Regions from separate parts of the Homo sapiens genome. Here all the other regions are linked to region 1. The links come from fine-mapping of genetic effects on gene expression. A gene starts in region 1. Each other region holds a variant in brackets. All regions are shown on one strand. Distances are from middle to middle.

The links. PIP is the estimated chance that this variant, and not a neighbour inherited with it, causes the effect.
Region 2: its variant is fine-mapped to the expression of IVNS1ABP in whole blood (INTERVAL, PIP above 0.99).
Region 3: its variant is fine-mapped to the expression of IVNS1ABP in whole blood (TOPMed, PIP above 0.99).

The regions. Positions count from the first base shown.
Region 1 is chr1:185,315,712-185,318,470 of GRCh38, reverse strand. It overlaps IVNS1ABP (influenza virus NS1A binding protein), which reads left to right and starts at 1,228. Exons shown (of 15, transcript NM_006469.5): 1 at 1,228-1,518. CBSLR (CBS mRNA stabilizing lncRNA) reads right to left here and starts at 1,019. Exons shown (of 4, transcript XR_007066771.1): 1 at 194-1,019. RefSeq lists enhancers at 210-289, 540-639, 1,289-1,902 and silencers at 970-1,279, 1,740-1,799.
Region 2 is chr1:185,586,326-185,589,084 of GRCh38, reverse strand. All of the region lies in intron 2 of LINC01350 (long intergenic non-protein coding RNA 1350), which reads left to right. The region is part of intron 1 of LOC107985239 (a long non-coding RNA gene); the gene reads right to left. Among named protein-coding and RNA genes, the nearest start is that of LINC01350, 41 kb to the left of the region's middle. RefSeq lists an enhancer at 2,395-2,759. The variant C/T (reference allele first, on the strand shown) is at 1,165.
Region 3 is chr1:185,566,060-185,568,818 of GRCh38, reverse strand. All of the region lies in intron 2 of LINC01350 (long intergenic non-protein coding RNA 1350), which reads left to right. The region is part of intron 1 of LOC107985239 (a long non-coding RNA gene); the gene reads right to left. Among named protein-coding and RNA genes, the nearest start is that of LINC01350, 61 kb to the left of the region's middle. The variant G/A (reference allele first, on the strand shown) is at 1,642.

The DNA of each region.
Region 1 (2,759 bases):
ATAAAAATGGTAAGAGGCATTGACAAAGAGCTCCTAGAATGTCTACAAATTAAGGTGAGTGATCAAACACAAGGTTAGGCCTAGACAGCTTAAGTGTCCTCCACAAATCAGGATAAGCGTTAACAGGACATTAACCTGGAAGCCTTTACCAAACTCTAATTTGGATATAATTTTACCTCACTAAATCCCTCACCTTCAATCAAAACTCCTTTCCCACGTGCCCTTCAGAGTCCACGAAGTTGCTGCCAGATCCCAGCTTAAATCACGTTTCGCTTTCACAGATCTCCCTCCCGGGCAAGGTGGTGGGGTGGATAATGAAGTTTGGCACCTGGTATAAAGGGCCCCAGTAGGTTAGGATAGGAACTACCACTTCTCAGGTGTGTTTTCTTTTTCCGGAAGAGGGCAAGACCAGTAGAGAACTGACTCAGCGTCTCCGACACGAGGAGAGCTGCACGCAGACAAAACAGACCCGGGGGGTGAAAAGTGGAAGTAAACTGGTGTTTGTGGCACCACTGATTTACACCTTCTCTGACTTCTCCAATATTTTTTTCCCCAAGTGACTCAATCTTCTCACCCAAACCAGGCCAAATGAGGGGTTAGTTGTTCGACTTCTTCTCAGAGTGCCTCTCTTCTTCCTCACACTCTCCACGCCTCCTCTCCGCACCCGCCACTTCCCCCCCGACCCTTAAGTTAAGGGCTCATGCCCAACTAGATCCTAATGTCCACGACGAGCAGCTCCAGTCTAGGGGGGGTTGCCTAGAAGTAGGTCTGACGCCGAGCAATCTAATCTCCCACGTCTGATCTCTCAGGCTATTGTGCCTCGAGGGGAAGTCAGAACAGGTGAGGGCGGCTTGAGGGAACCAGTTCCGGGACAGGCAACGCACAGGGCGGCGAAAGTGAGGGTGCGGGGCAAGGAACGGAGGGAGGGACAAAGGCGCGATAAGAGGAACGAGGGCGCCCCCCGAGCGCCGCCTATCTCCTCAGGATCACCTTGCGCTGACCTAGTTACACCGAGAAGGAAGGAACCCCAGTAGACCAGGGAGGAAGGCGGGGCGGGATGTGGGCGGGGCCGCGGGTGGGGCGGGGCTTAGAGTGGGATCTTTATGGAGCTCGCCTGTGATTTGCAGATGGATTCGAGACGGAAGCGGGCTGGGAGGCGTCGGCGGCGGCAGCGCACGTGGTGACGTGCGAGGGGGTGCGGCGCGAGCGGTCGGCGGCGGCGGAGGCAGTGTCTCCCGGTCGCGCGTGGAGGTCGGTCGCTCAGAGCTGCTGGGCGCAGTTTCTCCGCCTGCTGCTTCGGCGCGGCTGTATCGGCGAGCGAGCGAGTTCCCGCGAGTTCTCGGTGGCGCTCCCCCTTCCTTTCAGTCTCCACGGACTGGCCCCTCGTCCTTCTACTTGACCGCTCCCGTCTTCCGCCGCCTTCTGGCGCTTTCCGTTGGGCCGATTCCCGCCCGCTTCCTCCTGCTTCCCATCGAAGCTCTAGAAATGAATGTTTCCATCTCTTCAGAGATGAACCAGGTAATACGCGCTGGTTCTACGAACGACAGATGAGGGAGACGGCGCGGCTAGAATCCGAGAAGAAGGGATGGCGCCGGCGGATGGGAAGAGGGTGGGAGGCGCGGAAGCGGTGTCCTCATCAGGGGAGGCAGCCCCAAGCGGCCGCCGCCGCCCTCTGGGACGTGAAGCCCGCGCCGCGCTGGGCCCGCGCTCCAGCGCTGCCATGGTTGCCAAGTTGCGTTGGCGGCCGAGAGCGGGCGCCGGTCGCCTCGGAGAGCGCGGAGGCTGGAGCCCCTTTGCTACACTGGCGCGGGTGAGGCAGGCTGGGAGGAACAAGAGTTTTTTGTTCGAAGGGTTTTGGGGGGCCTGGGTTAGGGCGCCGCGGGCGGGGATGACCCGCCGGAAGGAGGGCGCGGGACTCCCCGTTCTTGCTGTCAGGAACGGACGCCTCGCCTCGGGTTTGCCTGGGGTTTGGGATTCTCTTCTGGAAGAGCTCTCGAGACTCGGCTCGTGTGGGCGGGCAGCCAGCCCCGGGCCTGGAGTAGGGTGGCACGGAGTCCCCGATCGCCGTGGGCCGCGGGGTCCTTTGTTCCCGCTCCACGTTGCCCGCTTTTCTTGCCAAGCGCGGGGAGAAGGGGGCGGGAGGAGGGAGGGAGCGGCTGCCCTGACGTGTCGGTACTGAGTGACTGCGGGGCTGGCCAATCCGGGGCGGGGGTGTGCGGGTGCTGGGGGCCTCGCCTCGCAGCCTGCGGAGTGGGCGCCGGCCTGGCTGCGCGAGGAGGAAGGCCTGGGACGCTCTTTCTTTTTTATGAAAGAAATCAGTGGCAAGATTTGCTCTTTTTCCGTCCCTCCACGCTTTTGGTTAAGTGTCTCTGATTATAAGCTCTTGATGATAGGAAGGTATCAGGCTGAGGGTTGAACCTAGGGTAACTTGAACCACTACTTGAGAACTACATTTACTTTTTCCCCCAATAGGTAGTGGACATATCTATTGGTTTGAGACAGCTGACATTTCAAGGAGAAATCAGATGTCCAAAAGGGCGCATTTTTGTGATGGAGCGTGCAGTGATGGAGCGTTAGAACACCTTGGCATCAAGCTGTTCGTTGAGTGTGTCGTGGTCTTCTGTCTACTAATAGATGACAACTCTGGAAGCCTAGTACCACTCTTAACAGATGAATAAGTACAGCATGGACTAGACTGCCACAGGCCATGCTTTCTTTTAATAATTCTAGCACCAGTGATTGATTTAGGAAAAACAAAA
Region 2 (2,759 bases), 270 kb before region 1:
AATGTATATTTTGTTGATTTGGGGTGGAGTGTTCTCTAGATGTCTATTAGGTCCACTTGGTGCAGAGCTGAGTTCAAGTCCTGGATATCCTTGTTAACTCTCTCATTGATCTAATACTGACAGTGGGATGTTAAAGTGTCCCATTATTATTGTGCGGGAGTCTAAGTCTCTTTGTAGGTCTCTAAAGACTTGTTTTATGAATCTGGGTGCTCGTGTATTGGTTGCATATATATTTAGGATAGTTAGCTCTTCTCGTTGACTTGATCCCTTTACCATTATGTAATGGCCTTCTTTGTTTCTTTTGATCTTTGTTGGATTAAAGTCTGTTTTATCAGATACTAGGATTGCAACCCCTGCTTTTTTTTGCCTTCCATTTGCTTGGGAGATCTTCCTCCATCCCTTTATTTTGAGCCTATGTGTGTCTCTGCACATGAGATGGGTCTCCTGAATACAGCACACTGATGGTTCTTGACTCTTTATCCAATTTGCCAGTCTGTGTCTTTTAATTGGAGCATTTAGCCCATTTACATTTAAGGTTAATATTGTTATGTGTGAATTTGATCCTGTCATTATGATGTTAGCTGGTTATTTTGCCCATAATTGATGCAGTTTCTTCCTAGCATCAATGGTCTTTACAATTTGGTATGTTTTTGCAGTGGTTGGTACCAGTTGTTGCTTTCCATGTTTAGTGCTTCCTTCAGGATCTCTTGTAAGGCAGGCCTGGTGGTGACAAAATCTCTCAACATTTGCTTGTCTGTAAAGGATTTTATTTCTCCTTCACTTATGAAGCTTAGTTTGGCTGGATATGAAATTCTGGGTTGAAAATTCTTTTCTTTAAGAATGTTGAATATAGGTTCCCAATCTCTTCTGCCATGTAGGGTTTCTGCTGAGAGATCCGCCATTAGTCTGATGGGCTTCCCTGTGTGGGTAACCCAACCTTTCTTTCTGACTGCCCTTAACATTTTTTCCTTCATTTCAACCTTGGTGAATCTGACAATTATGTGTCTTGGGGTTGCTCTTCTCGAGGAGTCCCTTTGTGGTGCTCTCTCTATTTCCTGAATTTCAATGTTGGCCTGCCTTGCTAGGTTGGGGAAGTTCTCCTGGATAATATCCTAAAGAGTGTTTTTCAACTTGGTTCCATTCTCCCCGTCACTTTCAGGTACA[C/T]CAATCAAACGTAGATTTGGTCTTTTCTCATAGTCCCATATTTCTTGGAGGCTTTGTTCATTCTTTTTTACTCTTTTTTCTCTAATCTTGTCTTCTTGCTTTATTTCATTAATTTGATCTTCAATTACTGATATCCTTTCTTTCACTTGATCAAATTGGCTATTGAAGCTTGCGTGTGCCTCATGAAGTTCTCGTGCCATGGTTTTCAACTCCGTCAGGTCATTTAAGGTCTTCTATACACATTTATTCTGGTTAGCCATTCATCTAACCATTTTTCAAGGTTTTTAGCTTCAATGGGTTAGAACGTGCTCCTTTAGCTCAGAGAAGTTTGTTATTACCAACCTTCGGAGGCCTACTTCTGTCAACTCGTCAAAGTCATTCTCCATCCAGCTTTGTTCCTTTGCTGGCGAGGAGCTGCAATCCTTTGTAGGAGAAGAGGTACTCTGGTTTTTAGAATTTTCACCTTTTTTGCTCTGGTTTTTACCCATCTTTGTGGTTTTATCTACCTTTGGTCTTTGATGTTGGTGACCTACAGATGGGGTTTTCGTGTGGATGTCCTTTTTGTTGGTGTTGATGCTATTCCTTTCTGTTTGTTAGTTTTCCTTCTAACAGTCAGGAACCTCAGCTGCAGGTCTGTTGGAGTTTGCTGGAGGTCCACTCCAGACCCTGTTGTCCTGGGTATCACCAGCAGAGGCTGCAGAACAGCAATATTACAGAACAGCAAATATTGCTGCCTGATCCTTCCTCTGGAAGCTTCATCCCAGAGGGGCACCTGCCTGTATGAGGTGTCTTTTGGCTCCTACTGAGAGGTGTCTCCCAGTTAGGCTACATGGGAGTCAGGGACCCACTTGAGGAGGCAGTCTGTCCATTATCAGAGGTCAAACCATGCTGGGAGAACCACTGCTCTCTTCAGAGCTGTCAGACAGGGACATTTAAGTCTGCAGAAGTTGTCTGCTGCCTTTCATTCAGCTATGCCCTGCCCACAGAGGTGGAGTCTATAGAGGCAGTAGGCCTTGCTGAGCTGCGGTGGGTTCCACCCAGTTCAAGCTTCCCAGCCACTTTGTTTACCTACTCAAGCCTCAGCAATGGTGGACGCCCCTTGCAGGGCTGCACCCTCGTAGATTGATCTCAGACTGCTGTGCTAGCAGTGAGCAAGACTCTGTGGGTGTGGGACTTGCCAAGTCTGGCATGGGAGAGAATCTCCTAGTCTGCTCGTTGCTAAGACTGTGGGAAAAGCACAGTATTTGAGCCAGAGTATACCGATTTTCCAGGTACAGTCTGTCACGGCTTCCCTTCGCCAGGAAAGGAAAATCCCCTGACCCCTTGTGCTTCCCAGGTGAGGCGATGCCCCACTCTGCTTTGGCTCACCCTCTGTGGGCTCCACTCACTGTCCAACCAGTCCCAATGAGATGAACCAGGTACCTCAGTTGGAAATGCAGAAATCACCCATCCTCTGCATCGATCACGCTGGGAGCTGCAGACTGGAGCTGTTTCTATTCAGCCATCTTGGAACAGATTCTCTTTCATCAACACATTTTATCACCATTTATTCCACTGCTCAAACCCCAAACCTAGAAAGCACTTATATTCTCCCC
Region 3 (2,759 bases), 250 kb before region 1:
GTTATTCTATATTAAAATACTGATGGAATAATGTGAAAGAGGCATTAGGATGAAATAAGCATTTCATGATCTTTAGAAATAAATGATACTTAAGTGTGAGGCAACAGGCAGTAGTGAGTTGGCTCTATCTTTGCACATCATAAGTTGCCCAAACGACATTTCCTTTGTGGTAAATTGTAAAGAAACAAATGTGAAAATTTTACTATGTCATATGCTGCAGTTATGTGTACATATTAAAGAAAAAGGAAGGGAGAAGTACAAAATCAATTTTTCTGCTTACATAAATAATTACCCTAATAGTTTATGAAATAAGAAAAAATTGCTCGAGCAAGAATGAAATCATTTCTTTTAGACATTAGAATCTATTCAGAAATTATGTCTTTTCATTGGACTTTCATCTGGCTTCCAACATGTCAAATCATGTATCTTTTAAACCACATGTTCTTTTTTTGTAGGTTGGATAGTTTCAGACTAGGCTCAATTTACCCCTTTTCTCTATAGAATCATGCACCTTACAGTTCCACTTTTGCCACATCTTTCATACTTTATGTTTCACATTTTATGAATGGGAAACCATATTTTAGAATAAAAATCTGTAATGTCAAACCAACATCATTTTTTCTTCTTTTTTCTTTTCTTTTCTTTCTTTCTTTTTTTTTTTTTTTTTTGAGGCAGAGTCTCACTCTGTTGCCCAGGCTGGAGTGCTGGAGTGCAATGGCACGGTCTCGGCTCACTGAAAACTCCGCCTCCTAGGTTCAAGTGATTCTCCTGCCTCAGCCTCCTGAGTAGCTAGGATTATAGGCATGCACCATCATGCCCAGCTATTTTTTTTTTTAATAGAGACAGGGTTTCACATGTTGTCCAGGCTGGTCTTGAGATCCTGACCTCAAGTGATCTGCTGCCTCAGCCTCCCCAAGTGATGGGATTACAGGCATAAGTCACCATACCCAGCCATCTTTTCCTCCTTGGGGTTTTGCTCTATATGTATAGACCTTGAGAAAGAGCTTTCAAAATAGACTTTATCCATAATCAACATCTTAGGATCTTTTTTCCTCCATAAAGATCTTCAGCATCACTATGCACTACAGTTCATTTCTCTTTTAAAGCAAAACGTAGCATAAACTAGACAAAACCCCCAAATAAGCTCTCCATTTCCTGCAGCTTGTGTAGCTCTAGCAATCTAGTCTATTGCTGGGCAATATATTCAAGCCTCTCACTGATTATGTTATCAAAGCTGTTTAAATTCCATTCCACGAGTTTGTGTATGGCAAAGATGAAGCTGTTTGTTTAATTAAACAATTTCTCTAAAAATGCACACAGTATATTTTGAGAACATAGTGAGACTTTGACCTTGCCTCAACAAGGGCATTTTGCTGCCACCCCCATTCTGCCACACTTTTCAACATGTTATCCCTCTTGAGTTTAATTTCTATGTTGTAAAACATCTCATCAATTGATATCTAGCATTTTGCATCTAATGCATTCTCATAACTTCTAGTTGGCTGTGGCTTATTTCATTGTATGCTTTCTTCTTCATACTTCTGGACAAGCTTTGTTTTTATGGCCTTTAAAAAAACATGGCTGTTATCAAACACTATATACGGAAATGGTTTCCTTGACAACCATAACCACAAGCGAGTC[G/A]TCTGCACCTCTTTCTCATTGCATGGTTTGTTTGGTTGCTAAAACACTTCAAAATATTTTTATTCAGAGTCAGGTATTAAGTACCTGAATTTACAGAGTAAGCTGAAATCCAAGCAGGTGATGAACTATCAGAACGGTTGTAAAGTGGCAAACTCTAATCATTTTCAAGTATTAGAGTTCAGCCTCATGACACAGTCTCTAAAAGGACAAATGCTGAAAGCTTGATATTTAAGATCCAAAATGAATGACTACCTCAAGGACACAAATTAAAAAAAAAGACTGGCTAGAAATGCCAAAGAAGTGAAAAATATTGCTTAAATGGAAGGTGACATTGCAGTTTTATTCATTCATATAAAAATTCCAAATGTTAATTCTTTAATGGGAAAGAGGTCAGCTTCAAGGTTATCAACAGAACAGCAGATATTTTGTCAAAAGTGCTCCTAAGACTATGTCTCTTGACAAAATTAAGCACAATATATATGGAGCTTCCATTTAAAATAGTTTTTGAAAATTTTCTTTGGTTAAATGTCTCATAGCTCATAAGATTCAGAAAATCTCTATTTCTGGGAACTTCTCAGGGTAAAAATATTTTCCCAAATATCAATTTTTTACAAGGAAATATACAGCTTGCATGGATTACAAAAAAAATTAGAAAGATCAACATGAGATTCTGTACAATGTGATAAGCATCCCAAGAAAAAATCACTAACAATGTCATCTCACTCCATACTGGTCTAGTCTCCTAATATCTGTCAAAGACAGGATATAATAAAAAACATGGTTTACTGTCCCCCCCACCGCATCATGTCCAAAACCATGGTTAAGTTGGAGATGTCTTCAGATTGGTTGGAATCAGAGTAATTTGACTGAAATAAATCACATAAATAATCCTATTTGTGTTCATGCATGTTTATAAAAAACAATTGTGCAAAAATATGAACCTGAAAATTTAATCAAGAGAGGTAGTGGCAATTCTTATGAGAAATTGGAGCTCTGGGTCACCAGGTAGGTTGAGCAGCAGGTGAAAAAAAATTATACAGAGCGTTTTTACTTATAGAATTTTACTTAACAGCTCTGAAAGAGCCTGTGAGGTTAGGTATGAATTATGGCAGGGGAAA